Linked DNA regions of Homo sapiens. The protein of the gene in region 2 interacts with the protein of the main gene of each other region in a biochemical or structural test. Each region holds a gene or a part of one and is shown on either strand. Other genes may lie near its edges. The genes, in order: RXRA, ROBO4 and THRB.

Region 1 (6,749 bases), on a different chromosome or scaffold from region 2:
CCCCACAGGCCCACGTCGTATCCCCACTGGAAGGATTACCTTGCACCTGGCGCATAGTAGGTGCTTCTCTTTGTTCAGTAGATAGATGAAGGCTGTGCTTCACCCCCCACTGCGCTCCCCTACCAAGCAGAACCACCAGAGGCCAGGCGACACCAGCACATAGTAGGTACTTCACAAGCATGTGTAGAATGGATGGCCAGATGCCCACACATACTAAACACTCTCTACAAGTGTGTACGGAATAGGCGGTCACGGCCTGAGCGTAGCGCTCATGTTTCCCCCCTGCCCGGCTGTGGGCCCTGGAAGGGCTGGGGCTCCCTCATTTCTGAGTCCACAGTGCTGGGTGCACAGTAGGTGTCCAGGAAGAGAAACGTTTGTGGATCCCTGCCTGGGATTCAAAGTCAGCGCTCCAGATTCTGCCTCTTCTCTCTAAAGGGGCATCTCCTGGCCTCTTGATCCTCAGACTGTGGGGCGGGGAGGGGGTCGGGGGAGGTGGGGCCCAGCAGACCTCATAGGACACCCAGGCCTTCCCGCCACCAGCACATACACAGTTAACCGTGTCCCCGCTGCCTGCCCAGCCCTCATCTGGCTTGGTTTAAAGTGAAACTTCCCGGAGGACGAGGACAGGAGGGGGTGGCAGGCAGCTTGTTTTTCCTGGCTTTCTGCCCTGGCCCATCTCGCCAGCTCAGCAGAAAACAGCTTGTTCTCTGGCCCAACTCCAGCCTCTGCGCTGTTTTTGCCTTTAAAACAAGGCCTGTGAGGCAGCCAACCACAGAGCTTTTCCCTGAAAGAAAGACTTCGTTAATAATTAATGAGGTCCTGCAGCCCCTGGAGGGGCCGTGTGGAGAGACTCAGGCCGTGCACAGGGGCCCTGGGCAGACACGGCCAGCCGGAAGGGACACCTGGTTCCGTCCCCATAGCACCCTGTCCTCAGCGGCAGCTGCTGCCCTCATGCCTGGCCCTGCTATCCCTCTTCCCAGAGCCCCAGACTTCCCCCCTCCCTCCCGCCCCCCCACTGGTCCCTGCCCCAGGAAACTCCCCAGGGATGGGCCAGGCCCTGAGGACCAACCCGTGCTCCCTCCCTCCCCGGCCAGCCTTCTCTGACCATGCTGTGCCCAATGCCAGCAGAGCTATTTCTGAGGAAGGGGTGGCCCTGGTCTGGGGCCCACAGCCCTGCACAAGGTGCCGTGGGAGGCACTCATGGGGTGCTGATGCTTTATGGAAAGGGTCTTGCACCGTTACACAGCTCCCAAGTCAGGCCTGGCTCCACCTGCAGTGGGGGTGCAGCCTGACTCCCCCTCCCCCGCCTGATGCTCTTTGACTTCTTGGTTGCCCACCATGTGCCGGGCCTGTTCCCTGCGACTCACCAGTGTGCTCAGCAGCCCTTTCCCTTACAAGCCCCGCAGTCTCTTGCTGTGATGGCTGCTGCAGCCAGATGCATTACTGATACTCACACCCGCTCCCGGCTGTCATGGCCCACAGTTTTTCATTTTTTGAGAGACAGTCTGGCTGTGTCGCCCAGGCTGGAGTGCAGTGCTGCGATCGTAGCTCATTGCAGCCTCAACCTCCTGGGCTCAAGCGGTCCTCCCTGCAGGCATGCACCACCACGCCTTGCTACTGTTTTTCTCTTTTTCTTTTGTAGAGACAGGGTCTCACTGCGTTGCCCAGGCTGGTCTCGAACTCCTGGCCTCAAGCCATCCTCCCACCTCGGCCTCTCAAAGTGCTGAGATTACAAGTGTGAGCCATCATGCCCAACTGCCTGCAATTTTTAACTTCTTCACAAAGAGCTATTCAGTCTGCCCTAGCCAGCTGCTGTCTGGCCCCTGGCCCTTCATCTCCGTCCTCAGACCCAGGGATCTCCCTTCACTCTGTCCTGGCTCTGGGTTGCCACTGCCTCTGTTTCCTTCTAGCCTCCCCTCCTTCCTTCTGGAGGCTTGGCATAGGCAGATTCAGGGCTACAGACCAGCCTCAGAGGGGTTGGGGTATCAGACACAGCCCCATCCCCAGGGAGGCCTCCAGTGCCAGGGCAGAACTGCCCATGCCCCTTGCCCGGCCCTCACCAGACCTGTTCCCTGCAGGTTCGCTAAGCTCTTGCTCCGCCTGCCGGCTCTGCGCTCCATCGGGCTCAAATGCCTGGAACATCTCTTCTTCTTCAAGCTCATCGGGGACACACCCATTGACACCTTCCTTATGGAGATGCTGGAGGCGCCGCACCAAATGACTTAGGCCTGCGGGCCCATCCTTTGTGCCCACCCGTTCTGGCCACCCTGCCTGGACGCCAGCTGTTCTTCTCAGCCTGAGCCCTGTCCCTGCCCTTCTCTGCCTGGCCTGTTTGGACTTTGGGGCACAGCCTGTCACTGCTCTGCCTAAGAGATGTGTTGTCACCCTCCTTATTTCTGTTACTACTTGTCTGTGGCCCAGGGCAGTGGCTTTCCTGAGGCAGCAGCCTTCGTGGCAAGAACTAGCGTGAGCCCAGCCAGGCGCCTCCCCACCGGGCTCTCAGGACACCCTGCCACACCCCACGGGGCTTGGGCGACTACAGGGTCTTCGGGCCCCAGCCCTGGAGCTGCAGGAGTTGGGAACGGGGCTTTTGTTTCCGTTGCTGTTTATCGATGCTGGTTTTCAGAATTCCTGTGTGGCCCTCCTGTCTGGAGTGACATCTTCATCTGCTCTGAATACTGGTGCCCAGCCAGCCCGTGACAGCTTCCCCCTAATCAGGAGGGGACAGCTGGGGGCGCAAGCTGGTGTGTCATCAGCAAAGACCTCAGCCGCCTCGGGGATGAGAGGGGACTCGTGGGGCAAGCAAGCTGCCCTGTGCTCTGAGTGAGGGGGAAGGTAGCCCCTTTTTCCAAAGATAACTCACAGTTTTGCCCTCGAGCCAATGAGAACATGAGCTGCCCTCTGTGCAAGGTTTCGGGGCCACCTCCAGGCTGCAGGGGCGGGTCACTCACCCCCCTGTTTTCTCTCTGCCTTGGTGTTCTGGTTTCAGACTCCCGACTCCCCGTTCAGACCAGAGTGCCCCGGCCCCTCCCCAGCCTGAGTCTTCTCCTTGCTCTGCGGGGTGGGCTGAGGCTTGTCCTTGTTTCCTGCAGGGCTGGCCCTGGCTCGGGCAGGGTGGGGCATCACCACCTCACTGGCCTTGCTGGAGGCACAGGGCTCTGCGGACCTGCAGCCATCTGTGAGGCCCGCGGGGATGGGAGGGGAGGAGGGTGGCCTGTTGGTTTCCCTCAGAGGGGGCAGGTGGCCTGGAGAGAGAGGGGCTCAGGAACTGGGAGCCTCGTGGGTGGGGCAGATGCTCCGCGGCCTGGAGTGGCTCTGCCGGGGCATTGGTGGGACCCCTGCTCAGGCCTTCTCTCTGGCTGCCAGTTGTGTCTAAAAGACTCTTGGAATCTGAGAACCCGGAGTCGCAGCGCCCTCGGGCCTGGGCCACACGCAGGCCCTGGTGGGACCACCCAGCCTGGTATTGTCCACGGACAGCGTTGTTCACCCAGAGCCTTACTTGGGAGCCTCACTGAACGCCTGCTCTGGTTGAAGGTGGGGTGGGGGCGGGGCTTGGGGCCTCCCTGGCTCAGCCCAGTGCGGCCTGGCGCTCCTCCCGCAGGCTCTGCCCCCGGGCTCCGGTGGTGCGGGGCCCTCTCAGGTTGAACTCGCCTCTTTTGCACTGGAAGGCCCTCCCTTTGGCCTGAGTACTTTTCCCGTTCACGCCTCAGTCCCGTGGACCCAGCCTTTGTCAGTGGCAGGTGCCTGAACAGAGGGTGGATGGGGGGGATACCGGAGGGGGTCTTGTCTTCCCAGCCGCAGTCTAGGAATGATGCGGGGGGGTGGACGCCTTCTCCATAGTCTTTCCCCACCTGGAGCAGGGGCTTCCTCAGTGGTGAGGGGAGCTGCCTACAGGTTGGACCGGGAGGCAGTGGCTTGGAGAGGCAGCTTTCCAGCCTTGGTGGGGAAGAAAGTGTCCATTCTTTGCCTTCCTGGAGCTCCCAGCCAGAGCTGAGCTTAGGCACCCGAGTGGAGCCTGCAGCTGAGTCTGTGCCCGAGACAGGCTGTCAGAGATTCCAGAAGCCTCTCCTCCCCGCCGCCCTCCACCCCTGCCTTTCAGCGTTGTGGATCCCTAGAGGTGGCCCCCTGCCCGATCCACCGTCCTGAGGCAGAGTGTTGAGCCTCATACCTGTACCAGGTCCCCGGCCAGCTGGGCCCCTCCCAGGCACTGCCAGGAAGCCCCAGCTGCCCCTGGCGGGTGTGGTGGAAATGGCAGGAGGGTGCAGGTACTCTTGGGGCCCCAGCGGTGGGAGTGCAAAAGACCCAACGCCAACACCTGGTGCCTTCTGCAGCCAGCGCCCACCCATCCGTGCCCGGACCCTTGGGAATGCCCGCGGCTCCAGAGGAAAAAGCCCAGGGACGGGGCCTCCGTTGCGGGGGGTCGGCTGCTTCTTGGGAACTTTGTCGTTTCCGGCGCTGGCTGGCTGGCTGGCTGGCTGTAAAGCACTGAAGCCCCCCGGCCGCCAACCCCTGAAAGCAGAACCTGGCCTCCCTGGCCACAGCAGCCTTACCCACCGCTCTACGTGTCCCGGGCACTTCCCGCAGCCTTCCCGTCCCTTTCTCATCGGCCTTGTAGTTGTACAGTGCTGTTGGTTTGAAAAGGTGATGTGTGGGGAGTGCGGCTCATCACTGAGTAGAGAGGTAGAATTTCTATTTAACCAGACCTGTAGTAGTATTACCAATCCAGTTCAATTAAGGTGATTTTTTGTAATTATTATTATTTTGGTGGGACAATCTTTAATTTTCTAAAGATAGCACTAACATCAGCTCATTAGCCACCTGTGCCTGTCCCCGCCTTGGCCCGGCTGGATGAAGCGGCTTCCCCGCAGGGCCCCCACTTCCCAGTGGCTGCTTCCTGGGGACCCAGGGCACCCCGGCACCTTCAGGCACGCTCCTCAGCTGGTCACCTCCCGGCTTTGCCGTTCAGATGGGGCTCCTGAGGCTCAGGAGTGAAGATGCCACAGAGCCGGGCTCCCCTAGGCTGCGTCGGGCATGCTTGGAAGCTGGCCTGCCAGGACCTTCCACCCTGGGGCCTGTGTCAGCCGCCGGCCCTCCGCACCCTGGAAGCACACGGCCTCTGGGAAGGACAGCCCTGACCTTCGGTTTTCCGAGCACGGTGTTTCCCAAGAATTCTGGGCTGGCGGCCTGGTGGCAGTGCTGGAGATGACCCCGAGCCCCTCCCCGTGGGGCACCCAGGAGGGCCCTGCCGGAATGTGCAGCCTGTGGGTAGTCGGCTGGTGTCCCTGTCGTGGAGCTGGGGTGCGTGATCTGGTGCTCGTCCACGCAGGTGTGTGGTGTAAACATGTATGTGCTGTACAGAGAGACGCGTGTGGAGAGAGCCGCACACCAGCGCCACCCAGGAAAGGCGGAGCGGTTACCAGTGTTTTGTGTTTATTTTTAATCAAGACGTTTCCCCTGTTTTCCTATAAATTTGCTTCGTGTAAGCAAGTACATAAGGACCCTCCTTTGGTGAAATCCGGGTTCGAATGAATATCTCAAGGCAGGAGATGCATCTATTTTAAGATGCTTTGGAGCAGACAGCTTTAGCCGTTCCCAATCCTTAGCAATGCCTTAGCTGGGACGCATAGCTAATACTTTAGAGAGGATGACAGATCCATAAAGAGAGTAAAGATAAGAGAAAATGTCTAAAGCATCTGGAAAGGTAAAAAAAAAAAATCTATTTTTGTACAAATGTAATTTTATCCCTCATGTATACTTGGATATGGCGGGGGGAGGGCTGGGACTGTTTCGTTTCTGCTTCTAGAGATTGAGGTGAAAGCTTCGTCCGAGAAACGCCAGGACAGACGATGGCAGAGGAGAGGGCTCCTGTGACGGCGGCGAGGCTTGGGAGGAAACCGCCGCAATGGGGGTGTCTTCCCTCGGGGCAGGAGGGTGGGCCTGAGGCTTTCAAGGGTTTTCTTCCCTTTCGAGTAATTTTTAAAGCCTTGCTCTGTTGTGTCCTGTTGCCGGCTCTGGCCTTCCTGTGACTGACTGTGAAGTGGCTTCTCCGTACGATTGTCTCTGAAACATCGTGGCCTCAGGTGCCAGGGTTTGATGGACAGTAGCATTAGAATTGTGGAAAAGGAACACGCAAAGGGAGAAGTGTGAGAGGAGAAACAAAATATGAGCGTTTAAAATACATCGCCATTCAGTTCGTTTGTTCCGTGTGGGGACTTTTTTGTTTGGAGCGGGAGGGCCCGCGATCAGCCCCCACCAGCCCACCCTCCTGTCCACCCTACCTGCCGGTCCTGTGCGGCGAGGCTGGCATCCTCTGTGGGCCATACTCTTGAGAGTTCTCTCCCTGTCCACTGGGCTCTGCTGCTCCTCCAAGGGGCAGGGGGCTGGGGCCTCCGTGAGGGCACCTCTCAGCAGCCGTGGGCACTGGGCCTGTGGGCGCCTGCGGAGCACGAGTGTTCCCACCTGTCCCTCCCCAGGCTGCCTAAGCATCCACGCCTCTGCAGCCACGCTGGCCCAGATGGGCAGGAGGTGCACCCAGAGGGCCAAGGAACACACGATGTCACCCAGCTGCCCCAATAACAACAAGTTAATGATGCCCCATCTGCATTGTCTCCTGTGATAAACGCCCTCTGTCTCCATGCTGTCTGGGGCTGGGCTGCTCCCGGCCTGGTTTGGTCTTCGTGCCCGGAGCCCTCTCATGCACCTGTGTCCAGCCAGGCACCCTCCCCGAGAGGCACCAGACACACTGAAGA
Region 2 (7,437 bases):
GGGATAATACCCCAGGGTGGACTGTGAGGTAAAACGGGATCATGGAGGTCAAGTGCTTGGCAGGGTCTGGAAGCCAGTGGGTCCTTGCTCAGCAAAAGCAGGTTTCCTTTGCTTCTCTGCCCAGGTACCTTTCTCAGTGCCCAGAGCAAGGGTATGCAGAACTCCAGAGAAAAGAGATGTCCTGGCAGCAGTAGGAAGGGCTATGACAGCTAGTGGGGGTACCTGGTAGCCACGGATGATGCCATTGTGGTTTTCAGCAGGTGGTGGGACCCAGCTCACAAAGACAGTGCCATTGCCAGGCTTTAGAGTCACTTCCTGAGGTGGGGCACTGGGCACTGGAGGGGTGGAAGAGAGACTATGAGGGGCTCTGAGGGAGAGGACTCTAGGGAAAGGAGCTGGGCTGGGGGACACAGCGTCAGAACCCTACTGAAGAGACAAGAAGCCTCTTGAAGCTCTGCTGGCCTGGCCAGGGCAGAAGGGAGTCCCAGGGTAGGACCCATAATCTCCCCTCAAGACTGAAGCAGAACAGTCCAGGGGCCCCCAAATAAGAAGGAGCCAGAGGGGATATTGTTGGCTTCTGAAGGGATCAGGCCCTGACCTTTTTCCGGCAGCCTCAGGAGCAGCACGTTGCTGTCAGGGCCTCGAGCCCGGCCAGAGGATGGTCTCACTTTGAACTCGTAGTCTTGGCCCCAGTGGAGGCCTCCAAGCTCTGCGCTCTGCCAGCCGGCCAGCAGCTCCTCTGCCCACGGAGCTCCCTGGCCTCCCGGGGCAGTCTGGGTCCTGAACAAGGCCGTGTAAGATTGGGCAGGCGCAGCAGGGCCACTGACCTGGGAAGGAGTTTCGAGGAAGGGCGGGGGGTCAGAGAGCTCAGGAACGCCCTTTCTTGAGCTCTGGATCGGCTTTTACCCTTAGCACCTGGTCCTCACCTTCCAGCTGAGCCACACCGCCGGTCTAGGCTTGGGGCCCTCTGCAGGATCCGGGTTCAGCAGTGTCACATTTTCCAGCTGAATTCGCACAGCCAGAAGCTCCACAGGCTCCGTGTAGTCCTGGGGCTCTGTGGGGAGGATAGGGCTGGGCTGGGGCTTATAGGCCAGAGTGACAGAACTGAGGCGTGGAACATCCCTCAGCCAGGGAGGAACCCCAGGGAACCCAAACTCCCAGAGTCTCCAGGTCTTGAGCATTCCGATTTCTACTCTAGCAGGGGGGAACCTCCCGCTACGTGAGACCCCCAGCACTTTGACCCTGACCCCACATACCTTAACCCCAGCCCAAACCAGAATACACCACCCCAACTGGAGCCTGCAGCCTGGCTCTGATTGTAGCCCACCCCTGCCCTTACCCTGGATGGAAACCCGGGCTGCGCGGCTCTCCCTATGTCCTGCGCTGTTGGTGGCCACACACATGTAGGTCCCTTCGTCACTCTTCTCTGCTCTTGCCATCAGCAGGGACCCCCCGGACACCTGTCAGGGCCAGGTTCACTGTGAAGTCTCCTATGTGGGGAGGGGCTCTGAGCTGGGGGGAAGTTTGAGGCCCCCTGCTCTCCCCTCCTCAAATTCTACCGGAGGATGCGGGGCTGGACGGCAGGTCAGTCCATCAGGGTGTACCCAGGTCTGCCCAGGCCAGGATGAAGTGTGGGGGAGGGGGCCACACTTACTGTGTGCCTTCCGGGCTGGAGGGCCAGGGGTTTCCCATCTTTCCACCATGAGACTGTGGGCTCTGGGTGGCCCCAGGGCGGCCCACATTCCAGAGTAAACTGCTCACCCACCACAGCCACCATGTCCCGAGGCTGGATCTGGAAATCCTCCCGGAGGACTGTGGGGAGGATGGAAGGTGACACGGAGCAGGGCCCAGGCCTCTTCTCTCTCCCTTATCACTCTTGCCCCCTTCTGCTTTGCCCACCTTCCTGGCCTCCCATTTAGGGCCAGCCCCGCCCCAGCTTGCCCTCCCAAGCCTTCCAGCCCAGGCCTCTGCTCACAGGTATCCCACTGACCTCTCAGATGTTCCCTTGAACATTCAGCTCAGATGTCTCCACCCAGGTTTGCCCCACCCTGAAGCTCCCCTCCCAGGCCTCACCAGCCACAGACAGCCGAGCGCCTCTGCTGACTGCCGTGCCAAGCCGGTTGCTGGCCTCACATGTGTAGACACCCAGGTCTGTGGACAGGGCCTGGCCATCGTGGGCATGTCCCCGGGCAGGGGGCTGTAGCAGCAGAAGGGTCCCATCAGGCAGGAGGTGGTGTGGGTCTGGGGGCACCATGCTCAGGGGCTGCCCATTCAGCAACCAGCGGATGGTGGGAGGTGGCTGGCCTGAGGCTTGGCAGCTCATCCTGGCAGGGCCAGGGCCCTGGAACAGCTGGTCCTGGGGGTGGACTAGGATCTGGGGCGGGGAGTCCTGAGCCATGCCTCCTGGGAGGGAAAGGGAGCAGAGCCCAGTCTGATCACCAGCAACACCCCAAATTCCTGGCCCACCCCTCATCTGTCTTCTCTTGTGTGCGAGTTTGCCAGAAAACCTGTAATCTGAACTACTAAAGGTTGCCTCCCAAAGAACAAGCCAGCTAGGAGGAGAGAGGGCCAGCATGCACAGCATCCAGGCCAGGGCTTGCATAGCATGTTCGCTCTCTCTCTCTCTCTCTCTCTCTTACTTTCTCTCTTTCTTTCTTTCTCTCTCAGTCTCTCTTTCCTTCTTTCTCTCTCTGGTGTGTGCGCACATGCACAAACACACATACACTTACACACACTCATCATCATCATCCTCATCCTCATCTCTGGTCCCCCCACTGCAAAAGGGAAGCAGGCAGTCAGCAGGCCCCTTCTGCCCTGAGCAGGCCTTGGATGGAGGAGCATGGGCCAGGAGAGGGAGAGCAACTCACCCATGATGAGCAGGAGCAGCAGAGGCAGGGAACCCCTGCCCCCCAGGAGGCTGTCTCCTCCAGAGCCCATGGCTACTCTCAGCCCTATGTCCTTGTCCCGAGCACTTTGTCCTGCTGCTCTGAGCTCACAGTGAAGAGGGAAGGAGGGGCGGGGTGGGCCGGTGGTGGTTGTTTGTGACCGAGACTCTGCCCCAGGAGGGAAGCGGCTTTGAGGAAACCGATGCTTCCTGCCTGGCCCTCAGTGCCTTGGAGAACTGGGAGGAGACCAGAGGCGAGAAACTCTCTGACCTCGACCATTTAGCTATAACCCCCGACCCTAACTTCAGCGCTAAGCTTTATCTCATGATCTACTCGGGGATTTCTTACAGGGTATCCTTACACTAACCAAAACTCCGATCAGAGCCTTAATCCTCTATTTAAATCTTATCCCTGGATCCCAATCCTTATCCCTTTGACACCTGCTAGAGAAGAGTGAAAACCCCAGGAGTCTCAGGACACAGCAAGAAGCTGAAGACAGAGGGCAGTGGGGCTGCAGGCTGGGGAGGCTGAGTGAAGTGGAGCAGGGGTGGATTGTAACACCCTCATCCATTTCCCCAGTGCCAGATGGACCAGGAGGTGGCGTAGGGTGGGAGACAGGAAGGACTCAGCATCTGGGACAAGCTGGGAGATTACCACAGGGTGTGTCCATATTCAGCTCAGAGATGGATGAAATAAGCTTCTGTGGAGAACTTGGGCAAGTCAGTTTCCTTCTCTGTAAAATGGAAATAATAATAGTAGTTCCTACCTTGAGGGATAAAGTAATGATGAAACACATAAAGCATAAAACCACTGGCATCCAGTGCCTGACTCATTATGAGTGATCCGTAAAGCTGAGCCAACATTGTGTATTTCTTTTTAGGCCCATCCCATCACTGAAACTATTGGAGGATCCTCGGCAGGAGTATTTTTCAGGCCCTGGAAAGGTGGTTGGAGTAAAAGACCTTTTAAGAGTCTTTCCAGTCCCAAGAGCCTGTGTCCATATATGTAGCAGACAGGCCTTGCAGGTTTTGAGCCTACAATGTCAGCTCTTGCCCGCTGCCTCCTTTCCCCCACAACCTAGACAGAGGCCACACTCCCCTGTCAGATCCCAGCTCATGTTTACTGGCCTCTTCCTTCCAAATCTGGAATCTCAGCCATTTCCTGGAGCTGTTCCCGGAAGGCCAAGGCCAGGCTCTGGGGCTCAGCGGAAGAGTATCCAGCCTTTGTTCCCAATTGTTCCTGGCCAGCTTCTCTGCAGGGCCCCTAACCCAGCTGACGCCCTCCCTTCCTCCCCCTTCCCATCCTGGCTTCGGTGCCAGCCACAGACTAACAGCCTGCCAAGTAGAAGTCTCCTTCACTCCTCCTCTTTCCTCTCAAACTCAGACCAATACTGACAAAGACAGAACTGGAGCAAGGAAACACCATGGTCTCTACAAACTGGGGAGTTTGCAGAGGCTAAAGAATAGGCAGAGTGAAAGTCATGGAGTGGCAGAGCTGGAAGGATAGGAATTGGGGCCAGAGAACAGAATGTCACTACCCTTGGCACCTCTAATTCTGAAATCCCAAATTCTGTTCTCTGGCCCCAATTCCTACCCCAAATTCTGTGGGTGTATCCTTACACTAACCATAACTCCAATCAGAGCCTTAATCCTCTATTTAAATCTTATCCCTGGATCCCAATCCTTATCCCTTTACCACCTGCTAGAGAGGAATGAAAACCCCGGGAGTCTCAGGACACAGCAAGAAGCTGAGGACAGAGGGCAGTGGGGCTGCAGGCTGGAGAGGCTGAGTGAAGTGGAGCAGGGGTGGATTGTAACGCCCTGGTCCATTTCCCCAGGGGCAGATGGACCACTAGGTGGAGTAGGGTGGGAGACAAGAAGGACTCAGAGCGTCTGGGATAAGCTGGGAGATTCCCACAGGATGTGTCCATATTCAGCTCAGAGATGGATGAAATCAGCTTCTGTGGAGACCTTGGGCAAATCTGTAAAATGGAAATAGTAATAGTAGTTCTCTGTAAAATGGAAATAGTAATAGTAGTTCCTACCTTGAGGGATAAAGTAATGATGAAATACATAAAGCATAAAACCACTGGCATCCAGTGCCTGATGCATTATGAGTGATCCGTAAAGCTGAGCTAACGTGTATTTATTGTGGGGCAGGCAGAATGGAGTCGAGTTTATGGGGTCAAGGATCTGTGGGGCCAGAGTGATGAAGGGGAGATTCATGTGACACTGAAGTCAGCTGAGGATGAGACAGGAAAGGATGTGGTGGGATTGGAGGATTTACTGCACAGGAGGCCAATTTGGGATTTCCCAGGTACAAAGCCTCCAAGACTGTCTGACTCCCTGACTATCAGCTTATCAAGAATGTCACTGTCAGCAGTCTGCTTTTAGTCTCCTCTGCTTCTACATTGGTTTTGGGGACACTAATTAAGTGCTCGCTAATGTTTTAATGCCAACTGGATTTTACTCCAGTCTCCACAATCCAGAAAGACGCTAGGTTTCCCTCAGGGGAAAATAAGGCAAATCTCAAAGGAATTCCAATCCATCACTAGCCCCGTCCTCAGCAGGGTGAGAAAGGAGAGGTGAAACGGTCTGTGTGCACCGCAGGGACAGAGCCCCAGAGGCTCCTGCAGCCCGAGGAATGTCCCCTGCCCCACAGTCACATGCCCCGTGCCTGGAGATCACCTTCAGCAGAGCCTCACCCTACTCCCAGGTTTTGGAGAGCTAGGTGCTAACACCTGAAGGTGATTGGAGGGGCAGATTCCTCAGTTGTTCCTGCAGGACACTAGAACTTTTTCTCCAGGGCACTCAGAGTGACATGCGGTGGTGGCCGAGGGGACTTCCCAACAGTAGGGTATGTCTGGATGGCTCCCAGAGACTGCAGGGCTCATTTCCAGCAACCTGGTGCATCCGCATCCTCATTGTCTCATTTCCACAAACTAAGGAAGAGCCGACTGCATGAGTCATGGGGATGATGTGGCTTGGTGGGAGCCGCCCCAATTGCTATTTCAGAGAAGCTCTGTTCTGGGGCTCTGGTGATGTGCTGTCCTGGTGACCAGTTTAAGCAGTGCCTTCCTTCATCCCTAGTTCTGGTGTTTTGTGTTTTCTAACTCCCCCTTCGTTGCTTGTAAGAGGGAGAAGAGAGGGGAAGCACCAGGTGCCCTTCTGAGCAAGCCTCCAGAGGAAATTTCTCTTCAATGTCTGGCTCCTGGCTTCTTTGGCTTTCTGCTCTGTGATCTCTGAAGATGCAATCTGAGACTCCTGCTGGCCAAGCTGGTGGAGAAAAAGGGATAAACTCAGGTGGGATTTGGAGTCAGTTACACTGGGGTTGAGATCCTGCTTCCACTTCTTATTGGCAGAGAAATCTTGAGTAAGTCACATAACCTCTCTGAGTCCCACTGCCCTCATTTGTAAAATGTCTGCATGAGGTTTACAGACAATGGACATGAAAGTTCTCTGAAAACACTAGATATGTGTTAGTTGTCCTTTGAGTGTTCTGGGATCAGCATGCCTGACCAACACAGCCATAGCCAGTCCCAGCTACCCCTTGATACTCTTTTTGGATTTGAGACTCACACTTTTTGCCTTCTTGTTTTTTCCCCTTTTTTGCTTGAGTCTGCTTGGTCTCAATCTATAAATTCTCAAGTTTGTTCCAAGATGCCAACAGCTGGAGGGAAATTGAGTCAAGAGAGAAGACAGTAAAAACCTCCTCTTAGCTGGCTGGAAAACTCACCCTAAGGCCACTTCACTGGACAGCATCTATTCCCTAGTTTCTGGTCCCATCAACATCATGGGTGATTTTAGGTGCTTGGAATCTAAAATCACATCGAATACTCTCAACCCTACATTTTCTTAACTTTCTCGACACCAATGACTATGGATCACACCTAGCTTAAACATTGCCCAGTTGGAGATTTCAAGGGCTGCTGACATCAATATTTAACCATTTGCTCACATGTCCAGGAAGAAGGGGAGATCTGTTACTGTGCTTTGTGTTCACCCTGTCAATGCCCTCCAGTCAAAGACCATCAGGAACATACCTATTGTTGAACAAGTTGATTTACTTCTTGCAGCTTGAGAGAGTGCATGCCATGGAGAACTATGGAATGTCTAAGTAAGAGAGATGTTAGAAAGAACCTATTCTAGGATTTGGGCTTTGATTGGGTGATTTCGTGGAGGGTCCAGGGAAGTGAGGCTTCACTCAAAATTGGGTGCTGTTGGGAAGAAAGGACATGCAATGATTCTTTGCAGAGGAGTGTCTTTGTAGTATATCAAGTGGGTCTTTTTCTTGAATATGTAGTATATCAAGTGGTTCTTTTTCTATTATAAACAGTGCTGCTCTGAATCTCTATTTTATATATCCCCTAGTATAACCAGTTAAGAGTTTCTCTAGAAAATAAACCTAGGAGTAGAATACCTAGGTCTTGAGATGTACAAATATTCCACTTTTGATGAAATTAGCAGATGTTTCCCGAGTCAATTGTACCAATGTCCTTGAGCCACGTCCTCAGAGCAGTTGGTGGACTTCTTAATTTTTGCGACTTTACTAG
Region 3 (4,316 bases), on a different chromosome or scaffold from region 2:
TCTCTTGAGATACATGCTCAAATGGTATCTGTAACATTCTGCATTTCAGTAGTTCTACTAAGTTTTGCTTTGGTTTAGACACCATTTAATGTGTCAGAATTTGTGTACATAAACCTGATGACAATTCCCCTTATTTACAAAGCTATGGTGCCCTGAGTGTCTAAACATAAAAACCAGAGTGAGCTGTCATCTTGAGGGTGGAGAAGCAAACCAACTTTGTCCTCTGGCTTCTCTTCATAGATTATTAGACTTTTCCAGGTTTGTGACATGACAACAGCTTCTGGCTTTGCCTGTGTAAAGGGGTTAAGAATTGTACCTAGCTGGAATATATATGTTCCAGCTCTCCACAATAAATGAATCCAGTAATTTCTTGGAGGAGGGAAATATGTTCATTAGGAGGAAGTTGGGAGGTACATAATGTAGACAAGAGATAAATATATAAAGGTTAATCTTAGTCATTTGAATATAGAGTGGAAAAACTCAGAAAATAGTACTCTGAACTGATCTAGCCTAGGGAAATAATGATGCTTGCCCCATCTTACCTGAACTGGTGTTTTCACGAACCAGGAAGAATGCGATCAAACACTTTCTTTGGAAGGTGTTTATTTGGTTCATGTCCTGGCCAAATAAAAACTTGGAGATGAGCTTCCTCTGTGTGAAGGAGAACCGCTTGCTGTACTGAAATGGGATGTTGTTTTAGATTTACCTTTGGTGTGGGCACTGGTTGCTTTTGCTTGCCCACCATTCTCTTCCACTTATAGCAGCAAGACTTAGAATTTTCTTTCAGGAATCATCTTGCCTCAACTCTCAGTCCATAGTTTAGATGAAGCTGACTGTCCCTCTTTCCCCTCACCCAGTTCCAGGATTCCTGAGGATAAGGTTGGTTATGCATCTGTTTTCCTCACCACAGTGATTGGCTCAGGAATGGGCACATGACTGAACTTGGGCCAGTGAGAATTAGGCCAGAATTTTCATTAGAATTGTTGGAGAAAAGAAATTCTCCTTTCACTATATTTGGAGCTGTAAAGCTCATCCTGGAGCTATTGGAGGCCACCGTAAGGTGAAAGGCCATGTGAATGTTAAGTCTACATGAATGACAAAAAAAGGAGCTTCCTGAGAATACTGAGTAAGTGCACCCAGATCCAGCCATGCCTGAAGCTTTGGTATGCAATACCCTAGATCCCAGATATTAAAGTCAATAATTAGCTTTCTGCTTAAGCCAGTTTGAGTTAGCTTTTTGTTACTTGTCATAGAAAGAATCTCAATTAACATGTGTTCAGGGCAACAGAGATTGAGATATATGTTGGCAGCTGATGTTAACATAATTCCATTAGTAATATTCCTGAATAATTTGAGATGAGAAGATGAATGTTGTCCTTGAGCTGCAAAACTTCACCTCTCTCCTCCCTTCATCTTTGTGGCCCCTTCCAAAGAGGTAACCCCCCATCAGCATTTTACTTAGTTTCTTCTCTCCCTCCATAGTTTCTTCTCAAGTAAATTTGCTTATTCTAGTAGATGTTTATTTATGAAATAAATGTCCTTACATCCGTGGTTCCGTCTTTTGGCAGCAGCTGAAGTGAGAAGAGCAGGCAACTCTTTGCCTATGTAGAAAATAATAATATTTAAAGAAAGAGACAGGAAAATATATCTGTTATAAGCTTTTTCTTTTTTAGAATTTAAGCTTATGAGTTTATCTACGCCCACTATATTCATAATTACAGTTTTATATCTGCATACAAAAGCTATGTAAAAATCCATTTTTCCCAAATATACAAATTTTTTTTGGATAGTTTAAAACATTTTGATCACAGATTTCAACAGAGTTTTAGGCTGAAAAAAATATCACCATCTAGCAATATCACTTAACACTGTTTGCAAAACACAAATCTTCCAATGACTGTAAATCTTTTTCTATTCTGTAGTATTTTTCTGATTCTCAGGGCATGAAAACATTATGGGAAAAAAAAGGATTTTCTACGAAGAAAGCATGGAGAACTAATTTGGCTCTATGGTCAAATTAAAAATGCCAAGTTAATAAGGGAGAACCAAAAGAAAGAAGTGGCATAATGTCACATCAGCTCATTCATGCCCTGATAATTTCTGTATCAACAATACATATGTAAAGTGTCTCCTTTTGTCTTACATTGTGCTCCATAATTTACATGAGTATTATCTGCATCCTGAGGAGGACAGATTTATATTTGATTGTCTTGTGCATAGGGTGGGTCAGCTTTAACTGTGCAACAGAAAGCCACAAACAGCGTTTTACCTGCACAATATTGCTCTTGAAGGCGGCATTAATTAATGTGGAAACACACTATAAATGCACACTTTTCGCATTTGCAAACATTTATACAGCACAGTAAAAATTCTGTGATAAGGCCAAACCTTTTTTCCCCCAGTCTGGTTTTTTTTTTTTTTTTTTTTTTTTTTTTTTGAGTGTGTTTTTAATGCATTTTTTTTAAAGATTAAAGTAAAATGTCTCAATTGTAAAAAATACACACCGGGCAAATCCTTACCTGGATAATAAATATCTACATCACAGTACAATAAAATTTCTTCTCTATAAAATTTAAATATGGATTATAGTCTATCACTATCAAAAGAAACACTATGCTAATATTTCCATATTATTAAAATAACAGGAAAAATTACGAGCTTATTTTAGAACCTGATGCCATAGCCGTTGGAAAGGGCAAAGAGATTCAAATGTCGATCATCACTCTCCATTTGAGGAGGAACTGTGGCTTGGTTATTCACTTAAATTCAGTTCATGAAAAAGGTTTAGCCTTACAAATGCTGGCTACATTTCAAAAACTGTAAGACTGATTTCATAATTTATGACTCATGCAGCAAAAGGTCAATATGACACGAATAGGTTAGAGTTCCATAGAATAAAAAGGTATCACTGACAATGACATGCTTCAAGGGTGCTCAGCGGTTCCTTGGAGGCTGAGTCTGTGGGGGGCTTAGTGTCGAGGAGGGGCCAGGGCTTGTACCCCTGTTCATGGAGGAGCAACAAGAACGGCGTTGCTGGCACAGAGCGAAGGCCTGGCAGTCCACCCCAGGCCTGCACTGCACACTGAAGAGCTGTCGCCCGGGGCACAGGTGAGGGGCTTCGCTGGGCTGAGGCATCAACAGGTCAAGCGCGTCATTGAGGACCGAGGCTCTAGAAAAAGCTCTGAGGCGGCACGTGGTGTTTTGAGCAGAATCATAAAGAAGAAAACATCTTACTTTTTTCATTGTTTCTGGAAATACTGCACGTCTAAATTGAGCAAAGTACACTTGAGGGTCACACACGCACGCGCATACACTCACACGCACACACGCCCCACACCGCTCATCCCTAAAAGGGAAGTGATTTATAAATACAAATCCCAGCATAATGGGTGTGTTCTCCTCTACTGAGACGTCTCCCTGCCGAGGGGGTGGGAGCGCAGGTGTGAAGGGTATCTCCATCAGGTCCACACTGGATTTGCAAGTCTGGACAATAGATGAAAAAATGTTTAGAAAAATCTAGAGCAAATCCCTCACAAATGAGTTTTATGAGATGGAGTCTTGAGATGCACTAAGTACCTCTGTCAGCTTCAGAAGGAAGGAGTTTAGTTTCAGAGTCATTATCTTTTGAGTCCTATGGCCTTTCCTTTCAACCTGAAGGTGGGCTAAGGCTTGTCCTACTCCGCATGAAGTATTCAGCCTTCAACGAGATTTCCAGACCAGCAGTTTGCCTATTGAAGGCAATCAATCATTTAAGGTGCCAAGGATCAAACGTTCCTTTACTTGCGGCTGGCTGGATGGCTGTTTATATGCCATACTATTTGGCCAATTCTCGATCATGGTTAGTCCCCAAAGCATTCTGATTTAGCTTGAGATCAGGCTCTGAACTTATATTCAAATCTGGGTGTCTGATGTACTGAGGACCCTGTCAAACAAAATGAGGAAACTTTCCCCAGAAGGCCTGACGCTGCAGGACCCTGCCTGCTTGCCTTCCTCTCATTCCCTTTGGAAAGAAAGCTTGCCCCAGACAGCAGAGCTTCTCAGGGTTACCCTGGAGCACAGAGGTGGCTAAGTGTTTGTCTTCCAAAGAGCGGTTGGTTCCTCAAGGAGTCAAGAGAGGAAGCTGAAATATTAGCAGAGCAAGCAATTAAGGAGCCTGGCCAGAGGCTGCCTAGACAAAACCAAACCCCAAAACAATCTGTCTGTAGATAAAGCAGGTAATCTGCCAATGAATTTCGTGCTTATAATTGTAAATCTTTTCACTTCCTTTCTCTGGGTAACAAGTTCCATAGCAATGTTCTTGTTTCCTTTTTCCCAGA

Evidence for each region.
Region 1: the proteins of ROBO4 (region 2) and RXRA form a complex in vitro, tested with the Homo sapiens proteins (one study listed by BioGRID).
Region 3: the proteins of ROBO4 (region 2) and THRB form a complex in vitro, tested with the Homo sapiens proteins (one study listed by BioGRID).

The regions. Positions count from the first base shown.
Region 1 is NC_000009.12:134,434,389-134,441,137, forward strand, and holds the end of RXRA (retinoic acid receptor RXR-alpha), read left to right. Parts: intron 1-2,078; coding exon 2,079-2,226; 3' UTR 2,227-6,197; downstream 6,198-6,749. UniProt on the Homo sapiens protein: Receptor for retinoic acid that acts as a transcription factor.
Region 2 is NC_000011.10:124,894,859-124,902,295, forward strand, and holds the start of ROBO4 (roundabout homolog 4 isoform 1 precursor), read right to left. Parts: upstream 3,008-7,437; 5' UTR 2,938-3,007; coding exon 2,868-2,937; intron 2,404-2,867; coding exon 2,074-2,403; intron 1,813-2,073; coding exon 1,655-1,812; intron 1,461-1,654; coding exon 1,340-1,460; intron 1,055-1,339; coding exon 927-1,054; intron 828-926; coding exon 599-827; intron 336-598; coding exon 223-335; intron 1-222.
Region 3 is NC_000003.12:24,116,567-24,120,882, forward strand, and holds the end of THRB (thyroid hormone receptor beta), read right to left. Parts: 3' UTR 587-4,316; downstream 1-586.